Linked DNA regions of Homo sapiens: region 2 is linked to region 1. Evidence: fine-mapped expression QTL. A gene starts in region 1. The other region holds a variant in brackets. All regions are shown on one strand. Distances are between the middles of the regions.

Region 1 (10,741 bases):
GCTCACGGCAGCCCCAAACAGGAAGGTCCCCAGCACCTTGTATACAGCAGCCACGTAGTTGTTGAAGTCCGAGCGAGAATAGAGCCGGTCTGTGTACACCAGGTAGGCTTCCCCGGCCGAGACCTGCAAGAGCAGCCGCAGGAACCAGTGGGGGTCTCGGTCGGCCCAGGGGCCCTCACTCCTCCGCACGGGCCTCCCCAAGGCTGCTGGAGAGCTGGGGACTCTGAAGGGGGCCCTATTACCCACAGGTACCACTCAGGGCAAGGCTGTGTCCCCCGGCCCCACACAGACCTCCAGGGCAGGGCTGTGCCACCCCCCCATCAGGCCCCCAGGGTAAAGCTGGCCCCACCCCATCCCCCTACCCAGTCCCTCTGAGCCCCTCCTGCCTTACAAGGATGACGGTGGCCGTGATGGTGACCCCAGCCATGAGCCCGTGGGTGATGGTATCTGGACGGTAGGGGTACCGGATGGAGTCATCCCCGCAGTAAAATCCTCGCTTGTACGGGGCGTTCACCAGCGTCAGGATAGCGAAGGGCAGGGAGGCTGGTGGGGAAGAAAAGCCTGGGAGCTGTGAGGTTCTCTCACCAGCTGGGCCTTGGGGCCCCACACACCTGCCTTGGCCTGGAGGCCTCCCACCTCTACTCTCACCAGACAGCAAGGAAGAGCTTTTTTCACAGCCCAAATAACACTCCCTTTCGCATCCCCTCAGACAAACACAAACTCCTCAGGCGCTCTGCCCCTCACATCCTGGCAGCCTCCTTTCTGCTCCTTGAACTAACTCAGCAAACACCCACCTTTGCACAGCCACTTCTCTCTGCCCAAAATATCTTTTTTTTTTAAATTTTTAAAAGTAGAGACAGGGGTCTCATGTTGACCAGGCTGGTCACAAACTCCTGGGCTGGAGCGATCCTCCAGCATCAGCCTCCCAAAGTGCTGAGATTACAGGTGTGAGCCAACGTGCCAGGCCCCAAAGTATCTCTAATTTATGTGCGGGGCCCCAAAGTAGCTCTGAGTAACCTCCACTCTCATCTCCCCTGCTGACTGTCCATGCCAGCATCCCTCTCACAGAAGGAAAGGTCTGCTCTTTTTCCCTCTTCCTTATGCAAACCTCATGTGGAATTTGGCAGTCACGTGTGGGACACTGGAATTGATTTCCCCCCATCCACCCACCGGCACCAGGAGGGGCCTACCGTATTCAGGGCAGAGTCCCTGGAGCCTGCTCAGGGCCTGGCCAGGGCAGATGTTTAATAAACATCGGTTAAAATAAGGCAGGACTTCTTTTAACCTAAGAGCAGGCCAGAGAAGTCAGGAAGAAGCCAAGGAAGGGCACAGCTGAGACACCTTCGCTCACGCACTTGCCCCTTCATCGACCAGCCACGTGGTGACCAGGACAGACCCAGCCCTGGCCTCAGGGATCAAAGACACATTCAGGAGCCACTTATGGAAGGTGCTGCCATGGCACTGGGGCTCCTGGGGCCCTGCTGAGCTGAGGGTGGCCAGGGAAGCAGGAGTCATCTACGGAGAACGGGGCAGAGGGCAGGCGCACAACAAAAGCCCGGGTCGGCTAGCCCAGAGACAAACCAAGGCAGGGCATCCTTTGGCCCAGCAGGGCAAGTACAAAAGGGTGTGGCTTTTCTAAGTTCTGAATGTCAGCGGAGGGGCAGGGAGCCCCACACTCCTCCCGACATGCTAACTCCAAGGGCCCTAGGACACCGTACACCTTCCATGCTGGCTAAGTCTGGGGAAATAATCTGGTGAAGAAAACAGAGGCCTGCCTCACCGAGCAAGAAAGGTGAGGGAATGCAGAACAGAATGGGCAGGCCCGGCGTGGTGGCTCAGCACTTTGGGAGGCCGAGGCGGGCAGATCACGAGGTCAGGAGATCGAGACCATCCTGGCTAACACGGTGAAACCCCAACTCTACTAAAAATACAAAAATTATCTGGGTGTGGCGGTGTCCCAGCTCCTCGGGAGGCTGAGGCAGGAGAATCGTTTGAACTCAGGAGGCAGAGGTTGCAGTGAGCCGAGATTGCACCACTGCACACCAGCCTGGCGACAGGGCGAGACTCTGTCTCAAGAAAGAAAAAAAAAGGGCAGCGCCAGGGCCTGGAGGCAGGGCAGGACGGCGGAGAGGGCGGGATGTAAGAACCTGCCTTCTGCTCCCACACAGGAGGGGCTGGAGCTGCTGTGAAGGGAGAGGCCTTGGAGGAGGCTCCTGCAGTTGCCGGCCGGGTGGAAAGTCAGGGTTACGAGATGCCCAGAAGGGAGTGCAGCCCGACCACAGCTCTTATCGGGCGGAGGCTCACACAGGTTAGCCTCCGTTTCCGACCTCCCTGCCCCAGCAACTCCAACTAGAGACGCAGGCACCCCCATAACGACAGGCGCCGGGCTTCCCTCGGCCTGGAAAGCTCTCCCTGGGGTCCCCAAAACAGACACCTTCTCTTCATTTAGCCCCCGGGAGCCCTCCCGCCCTCACACTGCCCTCATGCCAGCATCTGGAACCTCAGTGTTGACTGAACTGTGGTGTGCTCAAGCTTCCAGCATAGAGGTGCACTCGGCCTGGCCACCACCCCTGGCACACAGCAGCAACAGCCAACCCCATCTCGGCTGTACCTCCCGCTGCTGTGTGACCTCCGGCAGGTGACTCAGCACCTCCCTCACAGGCTGTTGTAAGGGAAATGTTTGTTATTTGCATGTTGCTTAGTTCCTGGCATACAGAAAGTGCCACCTAAATGTTTACATAAATAACACCATAGGTGCTCAGGAAATGGTACCACGGGCTGGCAGACACCCACAGGGACTTCTTGCTGTCACCTGGCCCACCCTAAAAAAGGGTCTCCTTCCGGAGGTAAGAGGACTTGGCCTCTGCTGTGAGATGGCAGAGAAGCAGGAAACACGTTGGGGAGGAGGGCACCCCCCAGAGATAGAATTCCAGGGCCATTGTCTGTGCAGCCACAGAGCAAACACTCGGCCTTTGTTCCCGGGACCCTGCGGGAGGGGGGCCTCGGGATGCCCATTCCGCCAGTGTGGCCCGCAAACCCGCCGGACAGGTTTGGTTCTCCTGGCCTCCCGGCCCCCCGCCACCCCGTTCACCCGAAGCCTGGGACCCAGCCTTCATCCCCAGTGTCTCCCCCGCCCGAGCCAGCAGGGCGGCTGGGCCTCCCCGCACGTGCACGGGTTCGAATCCCGCCGACGCACCGGGTGCCAGGACCGAGGGTCAGCCCTCTCCGCGCGCAGCGGGAGCGCCCACCCCAGGGGCGGAGGCGCGGACGTCCTGCCGGGGTAACCCGCGGCCGCCCCCACCTCCCGGGCCCGCGTGACTCACCTCCCAGGCCAGGCGGGGCGGGATGGAGGCGCGCGCGCGGCCCCTCCGCACAGACTTCCTGCTGCCGGGGCGGGGGATGCTGGCCCCGGCTCCCCGGGCCTCTCGCGACCCCCATCCCCCTGGGCCTGGGACGCGGGGACCCCCGAGCCTGGGAGGGCGCGCGCAGTGCGGGGCGCGGAGGGAGGTCTGGTCCTCACGCGAGGTCCCCGCCTCCAGGGTCCTCGGAGGGACGAGGGCGCGCAGCCTCCGCGTTCCCCTGCAAACTTGCGCGCAGCCGGGGGCGTGTCCGTCCCGGGAGGGTCCCCCCAACACCCGGGTCCCCAAGGCTCTTACCGACCAGTAAGCACAGCACGTCGAGCAGCACGAAGACCCACCTCCGCTGCATGGTCCCCGCGACCCCCGACGCCGGTCCCAGCGCGTCCCGTCGCGTCCCGGCCCGGCCGCGGAGTCACGTGGCGCGGAGCCCGCCCCGCGCGGAGAGGAGGGGAGGGGCGGGAAGGGGAGGAGGGGAGGGGCGGGGAGGGCACGAGGGGAGAGGTGAGGAGGGGAGGGGAGGGGAGGAGGGAGGGTTAGGGGCGGGGAGGGGAGGAGGGAGGGGGAGGGGAGGAGGGGAGGGCTAGGGGCGGGGAGGGGAGGGGGGAGGGGGAGGGAAGGGAAGAAGGGGGGGAGGGGAGGAGGGAGGGGGGACGGCAGCGGCGGGCAGGGGAGCAGCGGGGGGGGCGGGGCGCGGCGGACCCGGGACCGCGCGGACTCTGCCCCCGCCTGGCCGCGGCGCCCAAAAGAGCGGGTGGGGCGAGCGTGCGGGCGCCACGGGGACCTCGTCCGCCCGGAGTCCCGGCCCTGACCCGGGCTGTGCGGGTCTCCGAGCGGCGTGAGGTCCTCAGAGGCTGGAGGTTCCCCGCGGGTCGGGCCGGCGGAGCCCCGGGCGGGGACGTGGAGAAGGAGGACGAGCAGCGGCGGGACCGGCCCCGCGGGACGGTTCCCGACTTTCCTCCTCAGGGAGTGGCAGCCGCGCCGTGTGCGCCTGGAAACTCCGACAGCAGGAGGCACCTTAAAGTGGAAGGGGCGACGTGGCTTCATTTCAGGAGTTTCTTTTCTCCTAATACTCAAAATCCTGGCGCGTCCTTGGACCCCTGGCACGTTAGAAGCTCGAGTTCCTCGGCACCCACCTTGCGACGGCGTAGGGTGTCCAGGCGCAGCCCTGTGCCCAGGCACCGTTCCTATCAGCGCACTTGCTGTCCCATTTCACAGAAGAGCACGGGGGCGCCAGGAGCTGGGAACCCCATGAAATGGCGCCGGGGTCTGTGCCCCCACCAGGTCGTGGGGAGCCCTGAGCTGAGGGTGCCTGGGGATTGAGGGCACCTGAGCCAGGGAAACCCAGGCCCAAGGGACCCACACTGGGTCCTTTCGGCTGGGACCATCCGGGAGGCCTCAGGAGTGTCAGACCCACGTTTCCGGAGTCCAGCCTTGACCTCTGCCACTCACGGTCACTTAAATGGGAAGTGGCAGGCCTGGGGTCAGAAACAAGGCTGCTGGGCCCCAGATCCGCTGCCACCCTGACCCTCCTCTAAAACCCGTTCAGCACCACCATCAGCCCCCTGCCCCAGCAACACCAAAACAGGGTGCGTCTCAGCAACTGGACTTCAACTGGGAGCTCCTCGACCCTGCTTCCCGGATGGTCAGACACCTGCACGTGGGGCAGGGGGGCATCATGAGGGAACTCCAAGGGCAAGGGGCTCTTGGGAGACAGCAAAGGCACCCAGAGTGGTGCTGGGTGGGAAGACGGTGCAAGCTGACCTGTGGCCCTCCAAGGGCAGGGTTGAGGTGCTCCCTTGCTGCACTCACGGTGGGGTGGGGGGGCTCTAGCTCCCGTCGGAATTAGGATTGTGAGGGTTCTGGTGCCTAGCATCAATGCTACATAAATGTAGGGTTCAGCGTCACTACTGCGCTTTCCCCCACACTTCACCCTGTCTGCAAATGAGTGACCACTGCTGTCAGTGTAGTCTTGACAGCCAACGCACATTTTCTCCTAAGATGGAGAGGGTGCAACATCTACTGGAGTCAAGGAAAGGCGGTGTTCTTCATTGAGCACCTACTGTGTGCTGGGGAGCAAGGGAGAGGTCACTTGGAGGGGCCTGCCAAAGTGGGAGCGGGGGGAAGACAGTGGGGGCTGTGGGATGGGGCCAAGCCAAGAGGGAGAGACCCAGGAGAGGGGTGGAGGTAGACCTGGGAGGATAGAGGGTGGAGGTGAGGCTGCAGGCTGTTCCCCCTTCCATCCTTCCCCTTGGGTCAGGATTTGGGTTAGCCCTTAAAATCCCTGGGCAGGATAAGGATTAAAATCTGGTGGGGAAAGCAAGAATTAGGATTAGGGTCAGGATTGGGGTCGTCTCCTACATATGCTGACTGCAGCCCACCACACTTCAAGGAACTTCTTGTCACGGCTTTCATAGCTGGATCTGCTGCTGCCCCCAGCTGCCTGGTCCTCCCTTCCAGGAAGAACCTGAGGCCAGGGCAGCTCCCAGCAGGGACAGAGCCTGGCCTGGAGGCCAGGCCTCAGTGGCTTTCTCCTTCACCTGCAAATAGCAGAGCTGGAAGCGGGTGGTGGTACATGTACCCAGGCTGGGTCCCCTAGAGACAAGCAACCCCTGAGGGCCAGGTCGCCACTCCCAGGCAAGCAAGCTCACGGGTTCAGCAACTGCAGCTCCCGCCTCTTGCCCAGCACTGGCTCTGCCACCTTGGTGCCTCATCGCAACCTGGATGGCTCCGGGCCTGTTTCCAAATGGACTCTATGGAGACTAAGACACCTGTGAAGTGGGCAGAAGGGGGCCTGGCACACAGTAGGTGCCACCTAAGTGCAGCCAGCCACTATACCTGCCGTTGCTTTCTCTGCTTCTCTGGGACTTGAGAGGTGAAGTACCTTGCCCAGAGTCAAAACGGGAGTTGTCTCCCAGGTTCCTGGCACGGGGCTCTTGGAGTCGAACGAGTGCCCGTCAGTGGGTTTGACGTGCAGGCAGTGGGCAGGGAAGGCTGAGGGGGTGGATGGTTTGGAAAGACATCTAAGGTATCCCTCAGTCTCTGTCTGCATAAAGGCGGCAAGACAGTAGCTACCACCTGGGATTGTAGAGAAGATTAAATAGTTTGTGAAATGCTTGACCCAGGGCCAAACATTAGGAAACATCATTTGAGGGTTAATTGAACAAAATACAGTGTGGGTAGGTATCACGTGTTTGCTGGGTCAAGATGTAGAAGGTACTTCTTCCTGGGGTCAAGATTTAAAAGGGTTGGAAACCGCTGCCTTCAAATTCACAATCCAGGACCCACGAATTCAAAATTCCCCTCGGACTTTGCAATCCTTGGAGTGCCTCTTAATTTAGTGTAACCTTACAGTCAGTCAGGGACAGGGTAACCCTCCGGGTTTCAGCACCGCGAGTCTGCTGTGCTCTGTCTGTGAGGAGGTCTTCACTGGGTCACAGCAAAGAAAAACACACAGCAGTAGTGCTGGACGTGGTCGCCAGAGCCCCTCGCGCAGACAAGCCGGGACGCGGCCCCCCTGCCAGAGCCCCTCGTGCAGACAACCCGGAACGCACAGCCCCTCCCACCATCTCAGTCTGTGCGTTCGTTCACTGTCCCCGTCTCCTCCCACGAGCTCCAGGAAAGTGGGAGCTGGCACACAGTGGGTGCGCAAGCCGTGCTTACTGGGATGCCCAGAGCCTGAGGTCACCAGGGAGCTGACAGCTGCAGGGAGCTCTCCCTGGGTCACAGCAAGGCAAGACACACAAGCAACAGCGGAGGGCAACAGTGCGTTCTCAAAGGGAGAGCTGGTTTCCGCCTGCTTCTCGTACAAAACGAGGGGCAGAGATGGCAGGGGCCACCCCGCGAAACACTCGATTAAATCCCCGTTCACAAACCTTCCTGATGCCTGGCAGCCCTATCCCTGCCCCCGAAACCAGCATCTGGTGAAGGCAAGGAGAGGCACCTGGAAGACCTCAAATCTTTGCAGGTCTGCAAAGCCACTGAGCACCCACAGACCCCAAGGACCTGGTTCCGACTCAAGGAAGAACAAGGACGGTGGTGGCGGAGGGGCTCCAGAGAACTCGTAATGCCTCTGGTGAGGCCACCGCCGTCCTGCATCTCTTGATGTGACTGGTGACAGCCCACCAGGGCGGGGAACCGGTTCACCTCCCAAGTGCTCACCGGGGGCCGCGCTTTCGACTCTCCCTGCACAGGCCGTGGGTCGTGGCTCCGGGTGAGTGGAAACATTTGCCCCGCAGCGACCACCGCCCCTCCCTCCCCGACCTCGAGCCACAGGACCAGGGGACGGGGCTGGGCTGCGCTCTGGGCCCCGCGATGCCTCCGGGAGGCACGGCCGCCCTCTGCTGGACACGCCGAGGAGGCGCTCCACGCCAGGGTCTCAACATCCTCCTGAGAACAGCCCAGCAATGGGGCAAATAAACATCAAGGACCCCCTAGCTGAGTCCTGATACCTGTGAAACAAACAGGACACCCCGTTACATTTGAATCCCAGAAGAGCAACAAACCGGTTTTCAGTATGTGTCCCGAATACTGCATGGGACATACTTACACATTCGTTTATCTGTAATCCGAGCCCAACTGGGCATCCTGTATTTTATCTGGCCATCCTACCCAGGAACTACAAACCGAGAAAACAAGGACCATCAGGGAGAGAGAAACAGCTGGGTCAGGTCAGTGGGGGCCCAGACAGCGCCAGTCCAGGGCCCGGACATCTTCAACAAAGCCTGGGCCTGGGAGGCTGAGGCTCTGGGGACCGTGGCCGGTCCAGGACCATCAGTTCTGAGCGACTTTCTCCCTCCCCCACTTCCACCCCCACAGAAATTGTCTCAGGAGGGCTGATCTCCAGGCAGGCCCCTGGCTAACGCCTGCTTCCTGGCACGGCCATGGACTCTGTCCAGAACAGATTTCCATATTTGGTTAGCAGGTAGGAAGGAGGTCATCAAAGACCTTCACTTCACTGTAAAAGGAAAGCATTAAATAAACGAACACAAATGACTTTTATTTATGGCTGCCGAAAAGCTGAGGACAGTAAGTTTGTTCTAGAGAGGTATGAGCTCCCCTGAGGTTAGTCAAGACCAAGTCTGGTGGAGGCCTCATTAGTCCTAGGAGCCTGGTGTCAGACAAATCCGGAAGAGCCCCAAGGCACAGCGGGCCCTCCAGGTCCTCCTGCCTGGGTCTGGGCTGCAGGAAGGGCAGGATTCCACCACCCCACAGCTAACCCAGAGGCAAAGCTACGCTACACAAGCGGTGAGCAGGCCAGCCCAGCTCCTCGAGACCAGCACATCAACCCAGCTGCTGACAGGAGAGGGGCAAGCCCTTCCTGAGGCAAAACAGTATCCCCTCTGCTCCTTAACTGTCTTACCCACATCTAGTGCACCCTCAGAAACACAAGACACCATGGACAAGAACAGAATATTAGTCAACAATGGCATCCCAGGGTCTCTCCCAGCTCCAACCTATCTTAGATATTCCAGTCAAATCCAATCTCCCTAAAGCGTGACTCTACTTCAGCTAAAAAACACACTAAGGCTCCCCACTGCCTTCCCAGTTTCAGATTTCTTGGCCTAAGAGGGAAGTTGTTCCTGCACTGCCCTCCTGACCTCTGTGCTCACCCCACACAAATGGGACGCTCATGCCTCTGGGTGGCTGCGCCCGGCCTGCCCATGTGCTCCTCCCTCTTACTATTCCTTCTCCATGGGGCCTGCCCTGCTACCGAAGGGGAACAAGGGACCCTGGCCTGGCCAACCAGGAAACCCCTTCTGCTCGGCAGTTCCTGATTCAGTTATGGGCACGAGACCCAAGAACAAATTTTACCCAGGAGTTTTGTTAGAACAGTTGGGCAAGATACAGGCTTCCCACAGAAATCACAGATGTAAGGTTGTGTGCCTGGAGCTTCTGGTGCCATCTCAGTCGCCACAAAGGGCGCTGCCCCTGAGAAGAAGGTCAGTTCGGGCAGCAGAGAAATAGAAGCACCGAAACATCATAATGTGGATGGTGACTCCTGATTCCTGTTTCTGGAGGCCCTGGCATCCCCGGACTGGGTCTTAAGAGTATAACTTTCGGGCTGGGCACAGCGGCTCACGCCTGTCATCCCAGCACTTTGGGAGGCCGAGGAGGGCAGATCACAAGGTCAAGAGTTTGAGACCAGCCTGGCCAACATGGTGAAAGCCCGTCTCTACTAAGAATACAAAAATTAGCCGGGCGTGGCAGCGTGTGCGGTGTGGTGGTGTGCGCCTGTAATCCCAGCTACTCCGGAGGCTGAGGCAGGAGAATCACTTAAACCTGGGAGGCAGGGGTTGCAGTGAACTGAGATCACACCACTGCACTCCAGCCTGGGCAACAAAGCGAGACGCCGTCTCAAAAAAAAAAAGAAAAAGAAAAGGAAAAAAAGGGCTGGGCTCAGTGGCTCACGCCTGTAATCCCAGCACTTTGGGAGGCCGAGGCGGGTGGATCACCTGAGGTCAGGAGTTCAAGACCATCCTGGCAAACATGGTGAAACCTCGTCTCTACTAAAAATACAAAAACTAGCCGGGCATGGTGGTGGGTGCCTGTAGTCCCAGCTACTCGGGAGGCTGAGGCAGGACAATATCACTTGAACCTGGGAAGTGGCAGTTGCTGTGCGCCGAGTTCACGCCGCTGCACTCCAGCCTGGGCGATAGAGCGAGACCTCGTCTCAAAAAAAAAAAAAAAAAAAAAAAAGCAAAGCAATAGGATGACAATGATTTAAAGTAACTATTATTAAAAGGTTAAAGATTACAGAAGAAAAGATAGGGGCAAGGTGAGAAAATGGAGAATTTCAGCAGAAAAATTAAAAACACATAAGAGCACCTATTAAAATATACAATATGGGAAATAAAAATTTTGTGAAACAGACTAAATAGAAATCTGGAATATCAGAAAAGAGGATTGGTAGCATCAAAGACATGTCGATAGAAATTATTCAGAGGCCGGGCACACTGGCTCACGCCTGTAATCCCAGTACTTTGGGAGGCCGAGGCAGGTGGCTCACGAGGTCAGGAATTCAAGACCAGCCTGGCCAATATGGTGAAACCCCGTGTCTACTAAAAATAAAACAAAAATTAGCCGGGTGTGGTGGCGCACACCTATAATCCCAGCTACTGGGAAGGCTGAGGCAGGAGAATCGCTTGAACCCAGGAGATGGAGGTTGCAGTGAGCCGACATCATCGACATCATGCCACTGCACTCCAGCCTGGGTGACAGAGCAAGACTCCGTCTCCCAAAAAAAAAAAAAAAAAAAAGAAATTATTCAAACAGAAGCACAGAGAGAGAGAAAAATAAAAGAGAGAGCTGTGAGGCAACACCGAGGGTTGTAACATTAGTGACTGGAGAGACTGTGGGTCACCCATGGCCATGACACCAGTGAC
Region 2 (10,741 bases), 110 kb after region 1:
CTCACTGCAGCCTCCAATTCCTGGGCTCAAGGGATCCTCCTGCCTCAGCCTCTCACGTTGCTAGGATTGTAGGTACAAGCCACCATGTGTAGCTCCCCAAACCATTCTTCTTATCTCAGAAAGAAATCCTCTGGATTTAGCTATATTTGACATTTCATGTAAATATAAGCAGACAATATGCGTCCTTTTGGCCTGAGTTTTTTCACTGAGTGTCATGTTTCAAGGCCGTGCTCCATTTTTTTTGTGATTGACTACTATTCCAGCCTACGAATATGCCGCACGGTGGTTCATCTCTCTCTGCCGATGGACATTTGGGCTGTTTCTACGTTTCGAATGATGTAAACGAGCTGTGTGTCTTCTTCAATAAATGCCCATTGAAGTCTTTTGCCTATTTTTTAATGGGGTTGTTGGTCATTTTGTTGCTGAGTTGTATGCATAGTTTATGTGTTCTGGATACTTGATCCTGATGAGCTCAGTGAACATTTATAAACAAACTGACCATAGCAGCCCCCACTCCAATGAAAACGCCACCTGTGACGGCCCCCAGAGGCCCCTCGTCCCTCCTGGTCCCTGCCCCGGGGGCCCCATCCTGACTTCCATTGCTGGCAGCGGGTAGGTTCATGTCGGCTGCTCTTGAATTCCTCCTGCCTGGGCTGCCCCGCGTGATCCACTGAGTGTGGCAGAGACGTGTCGTGCTGCTGCCTTCAGCAGCTCCACCTGCTTGCTGAGAAGGTTCCCGGTGCGTTTGGAAGGCAGAGGCTCCTGGGCTTGCAGGTAGGTGAACGCGCTGACAGAGAGGACTCGGCCGGCGCACCCCCTCACCCCCGTCCACCATCCTGAACACCTAGTCCTCACACATCCTGGAAGATTTGCAGCCTCAGTCTCTTCCAAATGTGTCTTACTCCTCTCTGCTCACCCTGGTGCCAGGCATCCGCCTTTGCCCATCCAGACCCAGCACCAGTGCCCTGCCCTCCCCTTGGCTTCTGTGCTGCCCGGCCATGCCCCTTCCTTCCAGACAGTTCAGGTCATCCTAAAACGTTCATCCAAGCCCTTTGCCCACAGGATAAAGTCCACACTCCTCTTACAGTCCTGTGACCCACAGGCCTCCTTGGAATTTTGGGGCTGAGTCCTTTCTGCTCTGGGGCTTCACAACCCTTTTGTCCTCTGGCCTCCTCTTCCAGGAAGTCCTCCAAGGGCAAGCCTTGCAGGACTCAGACTAGGCACCCACCCCAATGCTTGTCGATGAGAAAGCCTCAGTCAGGAAGGAACTCGGGCAGACCAGGGATGGTGCCCCTGCTCCATGACATCTGGGAGTCTGCTCTAAGACCAGGAGGCTGGGGCCCACCTGGGCTGCCAGCTGCACCTGCCTCCCTGGGCCACCTCCTTTTCATGGCCTGGGTTTGGAAGCTACCCACTGCCACTTTGTATTGCGCGGAGCAGTCTGGAGGGGACAGGCCCAGTGGCCACTGCTCCATGGGGTGAGTCTCAGCTCTGGAGAGCGCAGGGCCGGGAACATCATGTCAGGGACACCCTGGAGCTGTGGTATCCCCGACACGAGCATAAGGCACAGCAGCACTCAGTCCACATTTGCCAAAGGAAAGGGGAACAGCCAACACGCATGACCCCTCACCGCGTGCAGACGACGCGTGACCCCTCACCGCGTGCAGACGACACGTGTGACCCTCACCGCGTGCAGACGACACGTGTGACCCTCACCGCGTGCAGACGACACGTGAGACCCTCACCGCGTGCAGACGACACGTGAGACCCCTCACCATGTGCAGTCACCTTGCTAGGCAGCTTATGTGCCTTCTCTCGTTTCATCCTCAGGTTTGGGAAAATTATCCAGAACTTGGAAAGGGGTAAAAACATCACTGCCTGCTCTTTGGATCCTGGACCCTCGGCACGGTGGGCCTCAGAGCTGATCATTCCCTGGGGTGGGGCCGTCCTGGGCACTGCTGGGTGCTGAGCAGTGTCCCTGGCCTCCGCCCACTCCACACCAGGAGCTCCCCTAGTCGTGACAACCACAGAAGCCCCAGACGTTGCCCCGTGTCCCCGAGGGGCCGAATCACCCAGAGGATCAGTTGTATTCCAGAGCCTCGACCAGCCCGGCCACCCGGGGGTCACTTTGTGGACGCTTCCCTCCACTCTTGCCAGTGTCCTGGCTCTGGGGTTGGACGCTGCTTGGGATTGACAAATGCGGATGAGTTTTGTCCCTGAGCGGCAGGTGCCTCCTTCCTCCTGCTGCGTATAAAACTCAGTCCAGTCCTGCCGTTCCTTAGTAAACACTCGGACGCACCTTTGACCTACAGTGGCCCGTGGTCTGAATGAGGTTTATGCGTGAGTGCTTTGAAAGCTCAATGTTGCCATCACCTGAAGCCTAGAGGGCAGTGTGCACTGGGCACCTCACTTACACAGGAGGAAACTGAGGCTCAGAGAGGGGGAGGGGCTGGCAGTGTGGGAGCTGCAGTCCTTGATCTGAGCTGTCCCCGTGACTTTGGGAGATGAGGAAGGAGCATTCTGTGGCTTGGCTGGGGGAGCCCAGGTGGGAGGGGAGGGTGGGGACACAGTGGCTGGTGGGCGGGGGGGTGCCTCTGAGCCGCCTGGGCCACAGGCAAAGGGGTTAGGGAGGTGAGAGGGGAGCTTGGGGGCAAGGGTCATGTGTCTCCACGGCCGGGCAGGTGCACACTCCCAGGGAGGCCACGAGGACTCTGTGGCCCGGGGATTGGAGTGAACCACGCTGAAAGGTCAGAGGGCAGTGTCCCAACAACAGTGCCCCCGTTCCAGCCCCAACGGCAGCCCAGGGGTTCCCAGGCCCACCCTCACTCTTGCAGGGGTCCCCAGGCCCACCCTCACTCTTCCAGGGTTCCCAGGCCCACCCTCACTCTTCCAGGGTTCCCAGGCCCACTCTCACTCTTCCAGGGTTCCCAGGCCCACCCTCACTCTTCCAGGGGTCCCCAGGCCCACCCTCACTCTTCCAGGGGTTCCCAGGCCCACCCTCACTCTTGCAGGGGTTCCCAGGCCCACCCTCACTCTTCCAGGGGTCCCCAGGCCCACCCTCACTCTTCCAGGGGTCCCCAGGCCCACCCTCACTCTTCCAGGGGTCCCCAGGCCCACCCTCACTCTTCCAGGGTTCCCAGGCCCACCCTCACTCTTCCAGGGTTCCCAGGCCCACCCTCACTCTTCCAGGGTTCCCAGGCCCACCCTCACTCTTCCAGGGTTCCCAGGCCCACCCTCACTCTTCCAGGGTTCCCAGGCCCACCCTCACTCTTCCAGGGTTCCCAGGCCCACCCTCACTCTTCCAGGGGTCCCCAGGCCCACCCTCACTCTTCCAGGGGTTCCCAGGCCCACCCTCACTCTTGCAGGGGTTCCCAGGCCCACCCTCACTCTTCCAGGGGTCCCCAGGCCCACCCTCACTCTTCCAGGGGTCCCCAGGCCCACCCTCACTCTTCCAGGGGTCCCCAGGCCCACCCTCACTCTTCCAGGGTTCCCAGGCCCACCCTCACTCTTCCAGGGTTCCCAGGCCCACCCTCACTCTTCCAGGGGTCCCCAGGCCCACCCTCACTCTTCCAGGGGTTCCCAGGCCCACCCTCACTCTTGCAGGGGTTCCCAGGCCCACCCTCACTCTTCCAGGGGTCCCCAGGCCCACCCTCACTCTTCCAGGGGTCCCCAGGCCCACCCTCACTCTTCCAGGGGTCCCCAGGCCCACCCTCACTCTTCCAGGGTTCCCAGGCCCACCCTCACTCTTCCAGGGTTCCCAGGCCCACCCTCACTCTTCCAGGGTTCCCAGGCCCACCCTCACTCTTGCAGGGGTTCCCAGGCCCACCCTCACTCTTGCAGGGGTTCCCAGGCCCACCCTCACTCTTCCAGGGTTCCCAGGCCCACCCTCACTCTTCCAGGGGTCCCCAGGCCCACCCTCACTCTTCCAGGGGTCCCCAGGCCCACCCTCACTCTTCCAGCGGTTCCCAGGCCCACCCTCACTCTTCCAGGGTTCCCAGGCCCACCCTCACTCTTCCAGGGTTCCCAGGCCCACCCTCACTCTTCCAGGGGTCCCCAGGCCCACCCTCACTCTTCCAGGGGTTCCCAGGCTCACCCTCACTCTTCCAGGGGTTCCCAGGCTCACCCTCACGCTTGATGATTTGCGAGGACGCACGGAACTCCCAGCAAGCTGTCCTCGTCACAGGTAGGGTTTGTCACAGTGCCGGGGTGCAGGTGCCGTGGGCTGGGGAAGAGCACATGAGGCAGCGTCCCGGAGAAGCCCCGTGGTCCTGTCCGGGGAAGCCGGGAACTGCTCACTCACAGGGCGCACGGACCACCAGGAAAGGGCACGGCAGCCTAGGCGCCCAGAGCTCTGCGAGGGATCCCTCGTGGGGGCTTGATTGACTGATTGCTTGCCACGGGGTTGCCCTCGAACTCCAAGGGTGTCTGACGCTGTGAGACCCAAGGCGCTCCCAAGTCCCACGGTTGGTCTTGCTGGTGTGACCCTCCCTACCCCAGACCAAGACGCTCCCCTCAGGCAGGGCAGAAATCACCTCCCAAAGCCAAGGCAAAGCCCAGACCTCACCCCGCA[C/T]GAGAGGATTCCTCACCCCACGGGGGAAGGTGCGGGTCTCATCCGTGGCACCGCAGCAGGGCTCAGCCGGTGACCAGGACTGGGTGCCACGGGTGCTGGGTCCGTGCCCACTCCAGCCCCACCAGCAGGCAGGGAGGGTACAGGGTGCTGCAGAGGAAACCGAGTCACAGAGAACGGAGGGACTTGTCAGGATTCTGACCCATGGCTGGCAGAGCACAGCTCCCTGGGGCCCTCTCTGCCAGATGGCAGGGGCCGGCCATGCAAGCAGGTGTCCAGTCCCACCCAGGAAGGGCAGCGTGGGTCCAGCCCTGGTCCGAATTCCTGTCCTGTCAGCTGGGAGGTGTGCGCAGGCCCCTTTGCCTTCTGTGCCTCGGTGTTTCCATCTGTGGATGGCAGTAGGCAGCGTCTTGCTGAGGATTCAGCGGGTCCTCCCGCCCACCCACCCACGATGCGCTTAATCAACAGGCCCTGCCCTGCGTGTGACCCTGGAGAGAGGCTCTGGGACCACGTCACTGTACAGTAGGGTAAACTGAGGCTCAGGCGCCGGCCCGCGGGAATGGCCCGCCCTCGTGGGAGGAGCATGTGTGCGGGTCGGCGTCCGCCTCCTCCTTTTTATTGAAGTCATTTTTCTCCTCCTGTCAGCGGAACTGGCCGTGGGCAGCCCCTCCCTCCCACCCCCAGGAGCTGAGAAGAAAACAAAAGCTTAATCGAATCCGGCACTGGGGCGGTGGGTGCCGCAGAGAGAGGCCGAGGGAGCCCCCGCCTGGGTGGGTCTGAGGCCGCCTGTAATTATGGCCCTGATGTGATTATATTAATTATCGTCGCTATTTTGTGCCGGCTTCCGCCCGGCGAGCCTGTGGATTGAGCTCTACTGCACACAAGCCGCCAGGGCTCATCACAGACAGAGCCTTCGGCCTCGGGAGCCTGAGACCCAGAGAAGCCACGCACTGCCCCGGGCCACACCCCACGTGGAAGGTGGGGCTTGAAACTCACCCTGCGGCTCCCCACACACGTCAGGGTTAGAGGTTCAAGGCCCCAGAGAGGACAGGCCGCAAGGCAGGGGCCCTGGGAAGGTGTTACTCCTCCTCCTCGGATGGGAGAGACCCACTGGATCAGTGTTCTGTCACCTTAAAAAATGAATCAGCCGGACGTGGTGGCTGACGCCTGTAATCCCAGCACTTTGGGAGGCCGAGGCAGGCGTATCACCTGAGGTCAGGAATTTGAGACGAGCCTGGCCAACTTGGTGAAACCCCGTCTCTACTAAAAATACAAAAAACTAGCTGGGTGTGGTGGCGGGCGCCTGTAATCTCAGCTATTTGGGAGGCTGGGGCAGGAGAATCGCTTGAACCCTGGAAGAAGAGGCTACAGTGAGCCGAGACTGCACCTCTGTACTCCAGCCTGGGCGACACAGCAAGACTCCGTCTCCAAAAAACAAACAAACAAAACAAAACAAAAAAACTGAAACAAGCCGGCTTGAGCAAACAAGGCACTTTACCGGCCCACCCTCTGAGCTGAAATGGTGCGCAGTTATGGACTTCAGGCATAGCTGGATCCAGGTGTCCGCAATGTCTCCAGGCTTCTGACTCTTCATCTGTTGTTCCCTATGATGGCTCCCCTCTGAAGAAGGGGCATCTTTTTGTAATTTGCACCAAACGGGGTGCCCCCCGCTTGTGGTGCCCATGGCCTTCCTGAGGGTCGGGAGACTCAGGATGGCCGCCAGTCTGAAAGGAGAGACTGCTGGCAGGTGTGCCTGCCTCCTTCACCGCACAGCACCCACTGGGGCCGAGCGCTCTGTGGCGCCAGGGATGCTGGAGGTGCAAACAGTAGATTCGTTCTGCTCAGGATCAACATCACAAGGCAGCAAACGGCCACAGCCAGGAGGGAACAAGGGCATCTGACTCCCCCGGGGTGGGGGCTGACCTGAAGGGCAGTGGGCCAAGACCTGAGGCAGGGCGAGACACCACGCAGGCGCAGAATCCCTGGATGACGCCCACTTGGAAGTGGAGGGGGGAGGGCATGGGCAGCTGCAGCTCCCAGACACCAGCACACACAAACGCACACACAAGTGCACACCAGCAGCGACACAGGCACACACAAGCGCACACAGGGTCACACATGCATACACGGCTCACGTGCTTACACGTGCACACGCCAGCACACAGGCAGCTATACTCGAGTGCCTGCAGGCGCTCACCTGGCACTGTCACATACGCCCAACAGATGAGCACGGTAACGGCACACGCAGTCACACTGCACACACATGCGGAAGCACATGGCGACGTGTGTGCACCTACCTGGCACGCACACGCACACACCCGTGCAGCCTAGCGATGAGTGGCTGGGGCTGAAGAGGCTACAAGGCGCCCGTAGCCCTGTCAACCCGTCCCAGGCCCTGACTGGGGCTCACCAGGCCGCGGTCAGGAGGCCGGGCTACGCTGAACCCCAATTCCCAAAAGCTCCTGGTGGATTTGAGATGGCAGAGACATCTGGACCCCATGGGCAGCAGGAGAGACAGAGCAGCCCAGCCTGGGCTGAGAGCACAGGGACGGGTCCTGCCCCGAGGGGTGTGAGGGGGGGACGGGGTCCTGCCCTGAGGGGTGTGGGGGGGACGGGGTCCTGCCCTGAGGGGTGTGGGGGGGACGGGGTCCTGCCCCGAGGGGTCTGAGGGGGGGACGGGGTCCTGCCCTGAGGGGTGTGGGGGGGACGGGGTCCTGCCCTGAGGGGTGTGGGGGGGACGGGGTCCTGCCCTGAGGGGTGTGGGGGGGGGACGGGGTCCTGCCCTGAGGGGTGTGGGGGGGACGGGGTCCTGCCCTGAGGGGTGTGGGGGGGACGGGTCCTGTCCTGAGGGGTCTGAGGGGGGGACGGGGTCCTGCCCTGAGGGGGTGTGGGGGGGACGGGGTCCTGCCCTGAGGGGTGTGGGGGGGGGACGGGGTCCTGCCCTGAGGGGTCTGAGGGGGGGACGGGGTCCTGCCCTGAGGGGTGTGGGGGGGACGGGGTCCTGCCCTGAGGGGTGTGGGGGGGGGACGGGGTCCTGCCCTGAGGGGTGTGGGGGGGGCACGGGGTCCTGCCCTGAGGGGTGTGGGGGGGACGGGGTCCTGCCCTGAGGGGTGTGGGGGGGACGGGGTCCTGCCCTGAGGGGTGTGGGGGGGACGGGGTCCTGCCCTGAGGGGTCTGAGGGGGAGACGGGTCCTGCCCTGAGGGGTGTGGAGGGGGGATGGGGTCCTGCCCTGAGGGGTCTGAGGGGGGGACGGGTCCTGCCCCGAGGGGTGTGGAGGGGGGAACGGGGTCCTGCCCTGAGGGGTGTGGGGGGAACGGGGTCCTGCCCTGAGGGGTGTGGAGGGGGGATGGGGTCCTGCCCTGAGGGGTGTGGAGGGGGGACGGGGTCCTGCCCTGAGGGGTGTGAGGGGGGGACGGGGTCCTGCCCTGAGGGGTGTGAGGGGGGGACGGGGTCCTGTCCCGAGGGGTGTGGGGGGGGGACGGGGTCCTGCCCTGAGGGGTGTGGGGGGAACGGGGTCCTGCCCTGAGGGGTGTGGGGGGAACGGGGTCCTGCCCTGAGGGGTGTGGAGGGGGGATGGGGTCCTGCCCTGAGGGGTGTGAGGGGAACGGGGTCCTGCCCTGAGGGGTGTGGGGGGAACGGGGTCCTGCCCTGAGGGGTGTGAGGGGGATACGGGGCTGTGTCTAGAGGGGGTCTGTGGAGACAGGGTCCTGTCTGAAGGTTCTGAGGGGAGGCGGGACCCACCCTGTAGGGACCGTGTGGGGTCCGAGTCCTGTTTCCTGACATCCATGTAGTCAAGAGCTGGAACCGTGAAGCAGAACCCAGACCTGCCGCTCCAAGGGAGGTGGTTTATCAGGGGCTGGGCTCCTGCCCCCGCCTGCCTCCACCCGGGGCAGGAGAATGCGGAGGGCAGTGGAAAGGACCTTGCCAATCTGGAATCCTCTTCTCCTTCCTCCCTGGAGTTCACCGCAGAACTCTCTCGTTATTAAACAGCCAGGGAAGCCAACCTCCACCCCCGTATTCCCGAAACACCTTTATTGCACTATAAACAGCATTTATAAACAAACACAGCTGGGGAGTGTCTTAAAGATTTACCCACAGTCAACCTCAGACACTAAGATATCAAAGAGTGCAGGGGGGCTACTAAACGGGGGACCCCAGGGAGAACAGGGCCTGGGAGGGGTGAGCATCAGAGAAGGCGGGGAGCGCCGGCGTCTCTCTCCATGCAGGGCACCCTCCCCGCCTCCCCGGCCTGAGGAGCCTCCGCCCTGGGTGCCCTGGCTTCCGGGAGAGAGCGGAGCCCTGCAACACCAGGCTCAGAAGGGGCCTGCACTCTCCCTCTGGAGGGCTCACAGGTGTGTCCCACCGGACGTGCAGCAGGGGCCCAGCTGCTCCTCCAGTCCTGGGAAGCAGCTCCTCCACCCTCCCCTGGACAAGAGGAACAATGTGTGGCAAACGGGCTGACAAGGGACGTCCCTGGGTACCACAGATGTGCCCTGGTTCCTCCGTGCCCACCAGCAGCCGGGAGAGGCGAAGGCACTGGCCTGGCCTGGCCCCTGCTTTGAGTCTTATCATTTCTGCATCATTCTGAGCTGGAAACCTCCCCAAAATCATTCAAGGACCCACATAACCACACAATGGAAGCCTTGCAGCCACCTAACAGCAGGAAAGGCCATAGCCAGGTCCCCCCAGCTGCCTCCTGGGCTCCGACCCACCCACCGTAGCCACAGCCTATTTACACACGTGGCGTCAAAGCCACGGCCGTCAATCACTGCGTGTCGCTCCCAGCTGCAGACGCTGGACAAAAGGGCGACGGGGTGGCAGCCCCCAGCGAGGACGGATGGGCCATAGGGCTGCTCTCTGGGCATCTCTGAGCAAGACCCTCCGGCGCCACAGCAGAAATGGCCAGACGGGCCTGTACCCAAAAAGCCAGCGGCGACAGTGTTGGAGGAAAACAGGCCAGGAGAGCCGTCTCCTCCCCGCGGACCTCTGCCAAGACCTCCTCTGCTCCGACTGTGGCAGCGGCTGCTCCCTCCGCGCCCACCCTCGTCAGGGCACCCTCGCCTGGCCCCACTCCCCACCGGAGCCTGGGAAGCTGGGGTCTCCCAGAGCCAAGCCTGACCCCTGGGAGGGGGCGTCCCGGGCAGAGCCTGGGCCTGGTGTGGCCGCGAGGCCCTGCTCTCCGCGGGGTGGGAACTGGATGGCGGCAGGCTGTGGGGGAGGAAGACACACGTGCAGTGAAGGAGACTGTGGGCTCCAAGACTTGTCACCTCCCTGTCCACGGCCCCGCCCTGGCCACATGCACGGATTCCTGAACCCCTGAGAACCTCCTTCTAGAACTCTGCGTGAAAGGCGCGAGGCAGTGTGGAGGGGCAAAGGGGGACCCTCTGCCCCGCGAAGTGGCCCCTTCTCTTCCCCCGAGGCCCCTCTCCTCCTCCTCCTCCTCCTCCAAAGGAGAAATTAATTCATGAAAAATAATACTCCAGTCAGCATCGGGTGACCCAGGAAACCCTGCGTCAGCTACAGCATCAGCGCCCAGCCCAGCCTGAGTGTGAGCCCCTCCCCGGCCAGCCCCAGCCCAAGCCAGCGGACCCGCCCGCCAGCACCCGGTGTGGAGGAGAGACCGGGGTCTGCCCTCTGCACCCGAGCGGACAGCGAGCAGGTCCCCGCTCTACAGGAAGGGGAGCAGGGAGGTCAGGGGCAGCTCCTTCTCCCCGAGCAGCGTGTCCCGCTTGAGGCTGCTGCCCTTGTTCACCACCTTGATCCTGAGGGCCAGTTTCCGGACGCTGGCGGGCCCCAGGCCGTCGAAGAAGAAATCCTCGTTGAAGACGGGGCGGCGGCTGTTCTTCACGATGGTGCTGCGCTGCTTCTGCAGCTTGCCCGGCACCAGGCACAGGCCCACGCAGCAGTTGATGCTGCGGGCGTCGCACAGGCGGTCGTAGAGGCCCTCGGCGGCCAGCAGGTGCACCCGCAGGCGGGCCTGGCCGGCCTCGTACTCGGCCAGCAGCCGCACGCTGCCCCGAGGGCCCACGTGGACCGTGTGCTCCCCACGCGCCTGGCCCGACTCGGGGCCAGGTTCCGGGGGTGCCCGGCGGGTCAGGCGGCGCCGGCTCCCGGGGCTGGCGTCCGGGGTGCTGTCGTCCGCAGACAGGGAGCCGTGGCGGCCCACGGAGTGC

What was found. PIP is the estimated chance that this variant, and not a neighbour inherited with it, causes the effect.
Region 2: its variant is fine-mapped to the expression of PLPP2 in thyroid (GTEx, PIP above 0.99).

What each region holds. Positions count from the first base shown.
Region 1 is chr19:287,629-298,369 of GRCh38, forward strand. PLPP2 (phospholipid phosphatase 2) reads right to left here and starts at 3,775. Exons shown (of 6, transcript NM_003712.4): 1 at 3,657-3,775; 2 at 392-543; 3 at 1-123. The coding sequence starts at 3,708. RefSeq lists enhancers at 1-498, 2,273-2,971, 2,428-2,941, 2,972-3,669, 6,369-7,218.
Region 2 is chr19:396,860-407,600 of GRCh38, forward strand. It overlaps C2CD4C (C2 calcium dependent domain containing 4C), which reads right to left. Exons shown (of 2, transcript NM_001136263.2): 2 at 8,586-10,741. The coding sequence ends at 10,237. Among named protein-coding and RNA genes, the nearest start is that of C2CD4C, 6.9 kb to the right of the region's middle. RefSeq lists enhancers at 1,127-2,326, 9,271-10,150, 10,151-10,741. The variant C/T (reference allele first, on the strand shown) is at 4,571.